Regions from separate parts of the Homo sapiens genome. Here regions 1, 2 and 4 are each reported to be linked to region 3. The links are microRNA targets in miRTarBase. Many come from high-throughput screens and were not tested one by one. Region 3 holds a microRNA gene; each other region holds the end of a gene's coding sequence.
Evidence for each region. Region 3 holds the annotated microRNA hsa-miR-5094 (AAUCAGUGAAUGCCUUGAACCU, at 935-956, opposite strand). A microRNA usually pairs through its seed, bases 2 to 8, with sites in the 3' UTR of a target mRNA and lowers its output. Matches are read on the target gene's strand: a 7mer-m8 pairs with bases 2 to 8, a 7mer-A1 pairs with bases 2 to 7 and ends in A, and an 8mer does both.

Region 1 (3,000 bases), not on the chromosome of region 3:
GTATCAATTTGAATGATAAACCTACAACTAAAATGATTTTTCAACATTATGGCTAATAATATTATTTCATTTTAATTATGCAGGAAATACCACACACATTTATTACAGTTTGATGGTGAAGGAGGTTGGCGCTTTGAACAATTGGATACTGCTATCCGTTTGACATTGAGTGAAGAAAAACAAAAGCTAGAATCTCAGCTAGCTGGAATTCCCAAAATGCAGCAGAGACTCAATGAACTATGTAAAATTTTGGGAGAAGACTCAGTGCTGAAAACAATTAAAAATGAAGATGAGACATCTTAATTTGTTTTGACATATTTTAAAAGTTAATTATTAGATAAAGGCTCAAAGACATTCTGTTATACTGCATGAAGTATGTTAAGCTAAGCACAGAGAAAAAAAGGCAGCAAGACATGTTTTATAAGATTTTAGCATTAAGGAAGTATATGATCTGACTTTTCAGAAGAAAATAAACAAATGCATTATGTAAGGTCAGTCATTATGACTTATACTAATTCCTAGTGAAGGCCTAATGCACTTGTAAAACAGGATTTTCTAGGTGAATTCATGATGAATACCAGATTTACTATGTATATGTGGTGTGTCTGAAGTTCTTAACAAACATGGGCAATATTCTGGAAATGAAACAAGTTAAACTGAGCAGCATTTGGGTTGATACCAAGTGCATAAGATTCAAACTTTGAGTGACATTTAGTCCATTTATGGTTGATATTAGGTTTAATAGCTAGAATTCAAATTGATTATTGCTAGTGGCCAACTAAACCTGTACAAAATAGCTGACAGTTTTATAAATAATTTCAATATAAAAATTGTTTTAATGGCATTTGTTGAAAGAAAAAAGCATGGCTAAAATGTATAAAATGCCATATTTTTAAATTTTGGACTTTAAGCATCTTAATGAGGGCATATAACAAATTAATTTTAGTACAAATCTTAAATATTTTTAATAAATCCTTTCATTTTAAAAAGAGAATTGCCAATACAGAAAAGGAGTATCCAAACAATGTCTCAACCTGATAATTTCCTTAGCAGAATTACCTATTGCAACTTCTGTTCAGAAATACACAGCTTGTTTTTTTGCCCAAGGATGAGTCTACATTTTAAGAACTGCAATGGTATAAAGGAACTTAAGGATTCTGAGAATCATAGTAATAACATACATTGGAATAGTACTTTATAATTTACAATCCCCATTTACATCATTTCACCTTAATGTTGATGACAATGTTTTGAAACAAATACTATTTTTCCTACTTTGCTTTTGAGAAAATTGACACTCAGACTTGCCCTAATCATGCACTTTACTTAAGGAAAGATCGAGAAATCAAATGAAGTTCTCCTGACTCTCTGGTTTAGTGCTCTTTTGTTATTATCCTTTAAATCAAACTGGGCTATAATAGCAATAAAAGTTAGACGAAGTGTAGAAAATAAAATAAATTTCATAATGTTAGTCTTATTGTTATTTGGTTATTGTTTACAAGAAATGAAAATTAAGTACAAAGTGCAAAGATCATTGTTCTGCGGCTTAAAATGAAATGAGAAAGTTAGTAAATCATTCAGCAACTATGCAGTCTTACTCAATATTAATGTACCTCTAAGGCATTAGCAATGAGAAGGGCAAATAATTATGGTTTTGGTAAAGTTAATATTTATTGAACATAATGAGAAATAATCTATATGGACTAGTCATATGAAATAGATTTTATTCTATTTGTGTGCACTGGAGCTGGAAAGCCAAGACTGAAACTTTATCTCTTGCTGCCTGTGATACCACATTGACATACCAGAAGAATATTGGAATGATCAGTTGTTAGTGGCCTAGGATTTTATTTGCCTGTTGAGACACAGCCATAATAGATGTTAAGTCTGTGATTCTTAGACTTTTCAGGTGATAGAGTACCTGGAAGTCATTCATAATGATCGTTATAGAACATCATAACATTTCTACATTTTCAATTCTGCCATGATAGCTAGTGTATTTTTAATTTTCAATAAATGTAACCAACTTACATGAAGGAATGCAATATAAAATTATAATCAGTACATTTGTCCAACGTTTTCATTAGTATTATCACCTACTTATTCATCAGTTACTAATATTTCCTGTTAGAAAAGTGAGGCAGGAATTAAAGATTTTTTTTTAAGAAGCATGGAACCAAAACTTAAACTTGCTAAAAATTATTCATTAATCTTTTCTACATAAGTGATTATCCAGTTTATACTGCTACAAGGGCAAAAGTCTGAGGCAAGTGTTTTAAGTTAACTTTTAAAGGTACAAGAAGAAAATGAAAAATCCTCATGTGAAAGATGTGTATAATTTTCATGCCTTAATTTTCATAATATAAAAATAAAACATAATTTTAAAACAACCTGATAATTTTGTTTTGAAACATTGAAAAGAATGCCAAAACAAATATTAGATTTGTAATTAGTCAGTATTTAATATATTTTACCCATGAGCTAAAGCAAAAAAGACTCATTATTTATGATGCACAGGATTCAAAGATGCCTAAAATTCTGTATTAAAAACTATGTACACTGTAATTTAAATGTTAAAGTTCTAATATGCACATGTTTTCCATGAGCTTTTTGTGCCTATTTGTTTTCTGAATTTATTTTTCAGGACCAACATCCTTAACTTGGAAGGGAAAACATCTCTGATTTGAACTTGTATTTATGTACCATTCAATTGTTTCCAAATGGTCCAATGGGTATACCATATTTTACTACTCTTATATTTTACGGAAAACATGAAAAAGACTGAGAAACTAGCCATTTTTGAATACAGCAAGGGATAGATGAGGAAAGGAAAAAAGAAAGAATATTTCAAGTTTCAAACTACTTTTACCATGTTATATCTATTTGCCCAAACGTTTGACATATTTTTGGTCAAACAAAAAGCTATAAGTTTATGGAGCTTGAGTTTAAAATGTGCATTCTTTAGGTTAACTCTTAAACTTGAAAAATAAGTTGGATTCT
Region 2 (3,000 bases), not on the chromosome of region 3:
AGAGGCTGGGCTGGAGAGAGAAGTGGGGTTGTAGGGCATCTATGACAAAAAGAAACTGTTGAGAGAAAGGGCAAAGATGAAGGATTGAGTCTAGAGGTATAAAACGTTGTAGCTAATTGTGGATCAGGAGGGGAGAGGAAGAAGTCCCGGAGCAAAGGCTGTGAGCTGTAAGCAGTGGGCTGGGACCAGCTACCTGAAAGCCAGGGGCCACTGCCTATGCCTGATGCCCGGCTTCCTCCTGCAGGTGTCCTATGAGGATGTGGACCACCTGCGGCCCCATGGGGTGCTGGATAATACCCGGGTGCCCCACTTCATGCAGGACTTGGCACGCTACCGGCAGCAGCTGGAGCACATCATGGCCACCAACCGGCTGGATGAGGCGGAGCTGGGTCGCCTGCTACCCGACTGATGTCCGTTGAGGGCTGCAGTCAGAGGCCCTGGACAGAAGCTCCAGATAGGCCCCTAGAACATGAAGCAGTTTGCTCTGTGCGTCCACGGCCTAGGTGTTTCTTGGGGGTGTTGGGAGGGCAGGAGCATTCCTTGAGGAGGAGTGGCAACATCAAAGTGTTTGTGTCCCTTGCCAGCCTCCCTGGGGTCTGGGGACCTGCAGCAGCATGTCTGGCAAACTGAGTCGCCCTCCTGCCTCCAGCTCTCTGTTGAGCAGAGGGAAGGCATGGGGGCAGGAAGAGAGCTGAGCATTGATGGGGATGGGGGTGGTTTGGGAATAGAAACTTGTTCTTGCATGAGATGGCTTTGGTTGTCCCAGTACTCCAGTCTCTCCCTTCCCTTACCTGGCCCCTTGGTGCTCCTTCAGCATTTGTGCTGTCTACCTCTCACTGGGTCCTGGTGGGGGTCGGGCTCCCTTCTCCTGGGGTGATTGATGGCCTGAGCCTGGGGTCCTGGTAGTAGAGACCCAGCTGGCCTGGGGTCTGCTTTCCGACATTTTGCCTCTCTCACTGGTCATGTATTTATTCCATATTTATATGGTCTACTTCCTGTGGCTGGGAGCAGCAGCTCCTGAAGGTTCCGTGGGGGTGCGGGGGGTTGGACAGGACACTCCTTCTTGGAAGGCACCAATTTTCCCAGCCCCACTCCCATTACACACACACACACACACACACACACACACACACACACACACACACACACACACACACACACACACTGATTCAGGCCTTGAGAGTCAAGCCCAAGAGCTCCCTTGGCCCTGTTCCCCACTCCCTCCACTGGCCTCTGCTGTTCCTGTCTTTGCTCACACCCTCACAGCTGCTCTCTGGCAGAGGTTGGCATAGCCTAGGAGCAGCTGCAATTGCACCTGAGGGACAGGCCCTAGAGTTTGGTGGCCCAAGTCCTGAACCCCTCTTAGACCAGGTGAGGTGCAGAGGTGGTTGCTGCTTCCAGTTTCCCTTCAGACTTAGCTGTGTGAACCCCACTCCTATCCTTTGGCCTTAGTTTTCCCATCTGTAAAACTCAGAAACGCAGTTGGAAAGTCCTTATTCATTTAGTAAGCGAATATATTATAATATGTATAGAGCGCCTTTTGTGTAAGTCACTGGTCAGAATCCTCACTGAGCTCCCAGTCCAGAGAGAAGCCAGACAATTAAAACAGTAATGACAATGATGTGTGTGGCCTTTGTCTACTCAAGGTCCCTTTCTGCTCCCCTCTTCTAGTCTCACTTCCCAAGGCTGTGAGCTCTAAGCCCTCCCTATGTGGAGAGAAGTCACCCTCCCCTTGCTCCATGTTCAGCTCAGGAACTTGCGTGGGGTTGAGCTGGTACCTACATATGCTGCCAAGTGGCTCACCAGGGGAAATGGGTTGTGTATGCGGGCAGGAGGGTCAGGTCCTTGTCCCACTAGGGGGCTAGGTTTGGGATCTCCAGGGTGCAGCCTGGACTCCTAAGGGCAGATTAGGGCTGAGGACTGGATGATGCTCGTGGTGGGCTTGGGCCTGCCCAGGTCCCTGGGACTCAGAGGTACCCACCCTAAGTTCCTGGGCAAACAGCCAGAATCGTGGAGAGAGCCCAGGTCCCGTCCGACCCTCCGGAGTTTATTCACTTCCAGCGGTACTGGGCTGGACCGAGCCTTGGTGGCATCCGATTCAGCTCCAGCAGCATCCCAGGTCCTATCCAGCATGGGCGGGGCACCGCCTGTCAGAGCTCTGGCCTTCAGGAATCTAGAGATGACGGGAACAGTGGTCAAAGAGGTGGGGTCCGGCATCCGCTTCCCAGGCCATGCCCTCCCGCCAAGCCGGCTCAGGGTTTGGGCGGACTCACACCTTCGGACTCGTCCCTTTCCTCGAAGTCGGGCTCGGGCTCTGGGTCCGGTTCTGGCTCCAGTTCCGGCTCTGGTTCTGCTTCAGCCTCGGGTTCCAGCTCTGGCTCTGGCTCCGGCTCCGGTTCAGCCTCTTTAGAGGCCTCAGCTTCCAGCTCTGGCTCTGGCTCCTCCGGGGTCCCGGATTGCACCGCCTCGGAGCCCTCAGGGCCCCCGGCCTCGTCAGGGTCTGAAGCTCTGGGCAACCCGGGGCATGTGGTCCCCGAGCCGGGTGCCTCCGGCGTCCAGTGGCCTGGGCATGGAGGGTCATAGCTGCGGTCCCGGTAGCCTGGGGCGGAAGTGGGAGTGACTGAGGCTCAATTTACCCCTGTGCGGTTTCACACTCGCCTACTTCTAGCGGAGACGACAACCCTGCCCTCCCCGGGCCTTTTGTCTGCCCCAGCCCCGTCCCTGCTCTGCCCTAGGCCCCGCCCCGCGCGCTCACCCGGACCCACGTGCTGCCAGTCCCAAGCGGGGTCCGGCGCGCCCGCGGTACGCTGGGCACAGCGTAGCAGCTCCTGGCAGGCGGCCTCGCCCTTGCCCTGCACCAGCAGCAGTAGGCGGCGCACCCTGCGCTCGGCATCAGGCAGTGCATCCAATGCCTCGTACTCTGGCCCGGTGAGCACGCCCCGCGCCAGCAGCGCGTCCAACAGCAGTCCCGAGTCCGCCTGCAGCGTCTCGACCAGGCGT
Region 3 (3,184 bases):
GCCATGGTGGTTTGTTGCACCCATCAACTGGTCATCTACATTAGGTATTTCTCCTAATGCTACCCTTCTCCTAGCCCCCTACCCCCGAGAGGTGCTGTTGTGTGATGGTCCCCTCCCTGTGCCCATGTGTTCTCATTGTTCAACTGCCATTTATGAGTGAAAACATGTCGTGTTTGGTTTTCTGTTCTTGTGTTAGTTTGCTGAGAATGGTGGTTTCCAGCTTTATCCATGTCCCTGCAAAGGACATGAACTCATCCTTTTTTTATGGCTGCATAGTATTTCATGGTAAATTGTATTTTAATGCTAAGATTCCTTCAGGAACTCTCAGGCACATAGAGCTGTCTGGTCCTAAGCAGCTCTGAAGAAAGCAAGCCAAGAAAGCAACTTTGCTTTGTAAAGTTCTGTTTTTCCCTTTCACCTGCTCTTAGTGTCTTCTGAATCACTTTTATGAACTGTTTGATCTTCAGACTGGACATTTCCATGGTTTTCCCTAGATGTCTTCTTGTCATAAAATTCCACAAGACATTCAATCCCTAGCCATTGATTTCTTTCTCTCTTTCACTCACAGGATCATACATTGTTTCAGTGGGCAATGAATGAATCCAGTGGAGCCTTGTCTTACACATCAGATGAAACGGCTGGCTGGTTTAGGGGCCACAGAGATTGAAAATTTGTTTTAAGCATTAGAATCACTCTAAGCACTCTACGATACACATGAGCACAGGCACATGAGAGCAGAGGCAAAGAAGAGCAGATTCAAATCTTCCATGTCACACTCATTCCAGACATATACTAATTAAGTAGAATTGAGGGCATATTCGTACTGTATTTAGAATTTTTCATTTCCTTTTTGTTTTTGGACAAATGGATAGAGTTGAACAAGTTGAATGTTTCAGTGAGCCCACTGTACCTACCACATAAAAGGCAGTGTGTTAGGTTCAAGGCATTCACTGATTTTTTTCTTTTTTTTTTTTGAGACAGGGTCTTGCTCTGTCACTATCACTCAAGCTGCAGAGCAGAGGCGTGATCATGGCTCACTGCAGCCATGGCCTCCCAGGCTCAAGTGATCCCACCTCAGCCTCCAGAGTAGCTGGGACCACAGACCTGCATCACCACACCCAGCTAATTTTTGTATTTTTTGTAGAGACAGGGTTTCACCATGTTACCCAGGCTGATCTCAAACTCCTGGGCTCAAGCAATCCTTCTGTTTCAACCTCCCAGAGTGCTGGGATTACAGCACCTGGCCGATTTTTCACTAAAAGAACATAATCTCTAACAATGTCTATTTTCAAATATGCTTAACATCACAGATTGTTAAGAGCTGGAAGAAGGAAATGAAGATAAGATGTGGACCCTGTCCTTAAAGAGCTTAGAATCAAGTAAGAAAGATTAAACATGTACAGAATTAACTATAATAAAAGGAAGTCTGTGATAAATACCATGACCCAAGTACAAAGTACTATGTTATTTCAGAGAAGGGTGGCCTTAAAACTAACTGGCAATTGGAGGAAAAGGCATCCAGGCAGAGGGAATGGCAAATTACCTAGCAACTCATTCATTATTCTTCATGCTCTACTAATTCATCTTCTTTTTTTTTTTTTGAGACAGAGTCTTGCTCTGTCCCCCAGGCTGGAGTGCAGTGGTGCGATCTCAGCTCACTGCAACCTCCGCCTCCTGCGTTCAAGCAATTCTCCTGCCTCAGCCTCCTGAGTAACTATGATTACAGGCATGTGCCACCACGCCTGGCTAATTTTTCTATTTTTAGTAGAGATAGGGTTTCACTATGTTGGCCAGGCTGATCTTGAACTCCTGACCTTGTGATCTGCCCAACTCGGCCTCCCAAAGTGCTGGGATTACAGGCATGAGCCACCGCGCCCAACTCAACTTCTTTTTTAATTAATAAAAGGATCACTCACTCACTGGCTTCATATTTTATGCTCTTTGAATATATATAGTTGACTGCAGTAAAGTATACTCACTACATATTATTACTTCCTTTTTTAAAAAAACCAGTTCCTATTATGAGTCAGGGTTCTCCGTGAAATCATTTTTTTTTTTTTTAATGTTCTAGCAGGACTTTTTCTTTCTAACCCAGTGTTTCATCCTCCTTTGGCTACTACCTGTTTGCACTGCTGATCCCAAATGCCAAGCACAGTGCTAAGTACAGAAAAAGATCCAGACCTTGTCCTTTTGAATTTCATCCTTCCTTGGTTGCTTATCTGCTAAGAAAACATGACACAAACACATTTCCCCACATTTAGGATGTCAAAGCAGGCGGGAATACTACAGGCAGCATTGCAGAGTGTAGAGGGAGCGGGTCCATAATCAGAGTCCAGGATCTGAATGTGGCTCTATCACTTACCAGCTGTGTGACCTTAGAGAAACTGAGGCTTCCTACCAATAAACCTCAGTTTCTTCATCTGTAAAATGGGGAGAACCAGAGTTCTTAGCTGCCAGGCTTATTCTAAAGATTAAAAAAGATGATGTAGGAAATAAATGAGACACTGTATATAAAGCACTTAGCTATCTATTACGTGCCTAGTTCTTAGTAAGTACTCGGATGTTGGTTAATTTGGTAGTTATAATCAAAGTCATCTTGACCAACCTCTTTCCCAGTGCAGGATTCTGTTCTTTGGCTCCTGCAACAGTATAGATCCTTCACTCTGGTGACAGATCCTTCGCCTCCATGAAGAGAGCTCACTACTGTTTCCAAGCTGCTCAGTGGGCTGTTGAGCAGCAACAACTGTCAGAGAGTTTTTAACTGTACTGAGCTACAACAAGCATCAAATAATTTCCACCCCCGATCCTACCTGTGTCTTCTGGAGCAACACAGAGTAAGTCCCTGCCCTCTACCCTGGGATTCTATCACTCTGCCTAAGGCAACCACATAGGCAGGCAGATAAGTGAAGCACAATTTGGCCATAAAACAAAAAAAGAAAAAAAGTCCAAATGCCACACCTAGATCCCATAAAACTGTTTCTAAGGAGACCATCTCCATCCCCACAGTTCCTGCTCCTTCTAAATCACTGCCCATGGAACAGCCCTGTGCCCCAGTCCACCTGCTCGCCCTTTACATGCTGGCTCAAAGACTTCCAAAGCTGTAACATCCCTAAACACAAGTTACAAAAATAGTTCAGTATCACTGGAGTGTAAAGTTCAAAGCAAGAGGTGAGGCTAGACAGGC
Region 4 (3,184 bases), not on the chromosome of region 3:
AAGAAACCAAATTAACTCATTTTTTTAGTTAACTTACTAAATGTTTTGGAACATACAAAGTGCAAAATATCTTTTGCATCCCTTTAAGAAACACCTGCCTTTCTTTGGTAAAGAATTTCTTGCAGGAAAGATTCCAAAGTTTGAAGTTCCCTCCAACGATCCCAGCAGAAATGTTTCTAACTTCTAAGAATGTCCTAAGAGAATGAGCTAAAACACAGAAAATGTTGAAAGTCTTATTTAGAATATTAAAAACTGGAAGCAATCTAAAGGTCTAACAGTGGAAGAATGATGTATTTATAATGTGAATATACATGTGATGTCCAACAATTTCAATTCTAAGTATGAAGAGTAAGCCACAATAAAGAATGTTAAAAAACAATAATTAGTAAGTAAATATAATTATAAAACCAAGTCAGAAATACAAAAAAAGGGACAACTATACTGGAATGATGAAATTCGATTTCTGTTTCCTGCCTCCTCCCTTGCTGGCTCTATAATTTTTTTTTTTAATTCTTAGAATAGGAAAAAAAGGTAAGAATGCTATGGCTGGAAGGCCACTAGTAAACAAGCACATATAAAGGGTCCTCAAGACAAGACCTAATATGGGTATGAAACTAAATGTTATAAGGAAGGTCATTGTCCTCAGCAACTGACTCTGCTATTTTTACCCCAAACAGGAGCCCATACAAAACCACCCCATTCTTTCCCTCTTTCTAATGAAAGGTCCCAAAAGGTATCCATCCAAGAAGTGCTGCCAATAATAACATTGTTAATTGTGACCAGCCTATAAACATCTTATTTGCAAAGGATTTTAGGCCTGAACTGACATGAAATATAATACTGTGGAACTTTTTTTGTCTTTTTGTGAGTGTTTTCTGACTGCAAAAGAACAGTTCATCAAATTACTTATCTTTTAAAAAACACAATCACAAAATCATATTCATATACTGCTACTGTAGTATTAGGGAATCCCAAGCCTAGACAGGCTGTTTAATTAAAAAAAAAAATGTAAGGATGCTTGTTTAAACAACTCAGAAAGCATTTTTCCCCCAGAAATATTACAGTGATAAGGGAAACGATCTGACCACCTAAGCCTCAGTTCCACAATCTCCCTCTAAATTCTCTGGTCTAGAAAACCCATGGCTCTCTGGGATGCTTCTTATGCTTTTCAGGAGTTTCCCTCACAGGTCTGCATTTCTATCATGGAATTTTTGATTTTTTTTTTTAAGCTAGGAAATGTCTTACTAACAAGTTGTTTTATCACCTAAAATCTACTATTATCCATTTTTACAACATAGATAACACTTGGTTGACTTAAATTCTAGAAGAAAAAAGTCTTGCTTTAGCAATCAAAAACTTAAAAACAAAGGGGTAAGAGGATACTGAAATGTACTAATAGTTTGTGTAGGACCACAAACATTAAAGGCAAGATGATAGTTTTAAAAATGTAATAACTCAAGTCTAAACATGAATGAATTTAAATTTAATCCTTTTTGTATGAAACCAAATAGCAGTCTAATACCACTGGGACTAAGTGCTATAAAAGTAAGTAATAAAACAAATACATGAAACATGATTACAATTTAAATTCTTTGGATTATCTTTTTTTTTTTTTTTTTTTGATATGGAGTCTTGCTCTGTCGCCCAGGCTGGAGCGCAGTGGTGCCATCTCGGCTCACTACAGGCTCCACCTCCGGAGTTCACGCCATTCTCCTGCCTCAGCCTCCCGAGGAGTAGCTGGGACTACAGGCACCCACCACGCCCGGCTAATTTTTTGTATTTTTAGTAGAGAGGGGTTTCACCGTGTTAGCCAGGATGGTCTCAATCTCCTGACCTCGTGATCTGCCCGCCTTGGCCTCCCAAAGTCTTTGGATTATCTTGTAAGACCCCACATTTAATATAGAAGTTTAAAACTCTCTAAAATAATACTACTAAGCATCTTAGTATTATTTAATACTTTTCTATCTAAAAAGTTGTCCTTTCCTTTTTTTTTTTTTTTTTTTTTTTGAGACAGGGTCTTGCTCTGGGCTCAAGCAATTCTCCCACCTCAGCCTCCCATGCAGCTATGACTACAGGGGTGCACCACAACACCTGGCTAATTTTTTTTTTTTTTTTTGAGACTAGGTCTCACCATCTTGCCCCAGGTGGGTCTAGAACTCCTGAACTCAAGCGACCCTCCCACCTCAGCCTCCCAAAGTGCTGAGACTACAGGCAAGGGCCACCATACACAGTTTAAGAATATTTTTTGGATTTTCACAGCTGTCAGGAAAGCTTTAGAAAGAAAAGATGGGTGTTAAAAGTTAAGACACAGCTTAAGACAGAAGCATTGTAAAACAGGAACAAATACTGGCTTAAACCTGATGTCTCTAACTATATTCCTCTATTTTAAGAATGTTTTAGTATCTGATAGTTTCATCAGCCTTTCCATTTTCCAATATGTGACCTTTATTCCCACCATGTCCCAAATAAACGAGTCCTAGGATTTCCTAGAAGGTGGACCTCAATTATTGTGTCCCTTTTATATATAAGGCAAACATTGCTTTTAAGTTCTGTTGGAACATGGGAACTTTCACTAGAATGCTTAGAATGTTCAGAAAAAATGTCCCAAAGCTCTCTTCTGGTCCATACAAGACAATCAGAATGTAACACAGTAGCAGAGGGTGTGGAACATACACTAGTCATATTTGATTCTCTCTGTCAGGGGTTCTTCTTTGTAATGGGAAATAATTTGAATCAGGATGGAACAATTGATAAGAAGAAAGAACAAACCAGCTAACCAAATAAACAGAAAGGTGTTCTTTCCTTGAAACTCTAGAACATAGGCAGGAGCCAGCCACATGGCCTGCCCTATAAACCATAACATTAGGAGAACTACAGCTCTTTTCCAAGGCATTCTGACTAGTGGCATCACAAGAGGCAGTAAGCAGAGGTACCAAAGAAAGTACTGGGAGGTGCAGACTTTGTTAAAAGTCACAAAAATGGACGTATGAAGAAAACAACAAAAAACGAGGTCTCTGTAATAGGCGAAAGACACAGCTGAAAGCAAGATGAGCTGTGGCAGGAATGCAGCAATTCCCAGGGAAAAACTCCACTTGCTCTCTGCAGTCAAATACAGCATGTAGAAGTACGGAGAAAAGTTGTGACGGATATCCCGCCTAGTCAGGTGATAAAAGTAGGTGTGTTC

Region 1: the mRNA of ABCD2 is a reported target of hsa-miR-5094. The part of its 3' UTR that is shown has no 7-base or 8-base seed match.
Region 2: miRTarBase lists MATCAP1 as a target of hsa-miR-5094. Seed matches in the 3' UTR shown: 7mer-m8 at 1,163-1,169.
Region 4: miRTarBase lists PIGM as a target of hsa-miR-5094. The part of its 3' UTR that is shown has no 7-base or 8-base seed match.

The regions. Positions count from the first base shown.
Region 1 is chr12:39,551,215-39,554,214 of GRCh38, reverse strand. It overlaps ABCD2 (ATP binding cassette subfamily D member 2), which reads left to right. Exons shown (of 10, transcript NM_005164.4): 10 at 84-3,000. The coding sequence ends at 303. Among named protein-coding and RNA genes, the nearest start is that of ABCD2, 67 kb to the left of the region's middle.
Region 2 is chr16:67,174,220-67,177,219 of GRCh38, reverse strand. MATCAP1 (microtubule associated tyrosine carboxypeptidase 1) reads left to right here. Exons shown (of 7, transcript NM_001040715.2): 7 at 245-1,621. The coding sequence ends at 409. NOL3 (nucleolar protein 3) reads right to left here. Exons shown (of 4, transcript NM_001276309.3): 2 at 2,756-3,000; 3 at 2,276-2,599; 4 at 1,483-2,173. The coding sequence ends at 2,166. Among named protein-coding and RNA genes, the nearest start is that of NOL3, 5.2 kb to the right of the region's middle. RefSeq lists silencers at 833-1,262, 2,636-2,895 and an enhancer at 2,793-3,000.
Region 3 is chr15:89,849,756-89,852,939 of GRCh38, forward strand. MIR5094 (microRNA 5094) reads right to left here and starts at 966; the gene lies at 882-966. All of the region lies in intron 8 of ARPIN-AP3S2 (ARPIN-AP3S2 readthrough), which reads right to left. All of the region lies in intron 4 of AP3S2 (adaptor related protein complex 3 subunit sigma 2), which reads right to left. RefSeq lists an enhancer at 1,962-2,011.
Region 4 is chr1:160,027,794-160,030,977 of GRCh38, forward strand. PIGM (phosphatidylinositol glycan anchor biosynthesis class M) reads right to left here. Exons shown (of 1, transcript NM_145167.3): 1 at 1-3,184. The coding sequence ends at 2,675. Among named protein-coding and RNA genes, the nearest start is that of PIGM, 2.6 kb to the right of the region's middle.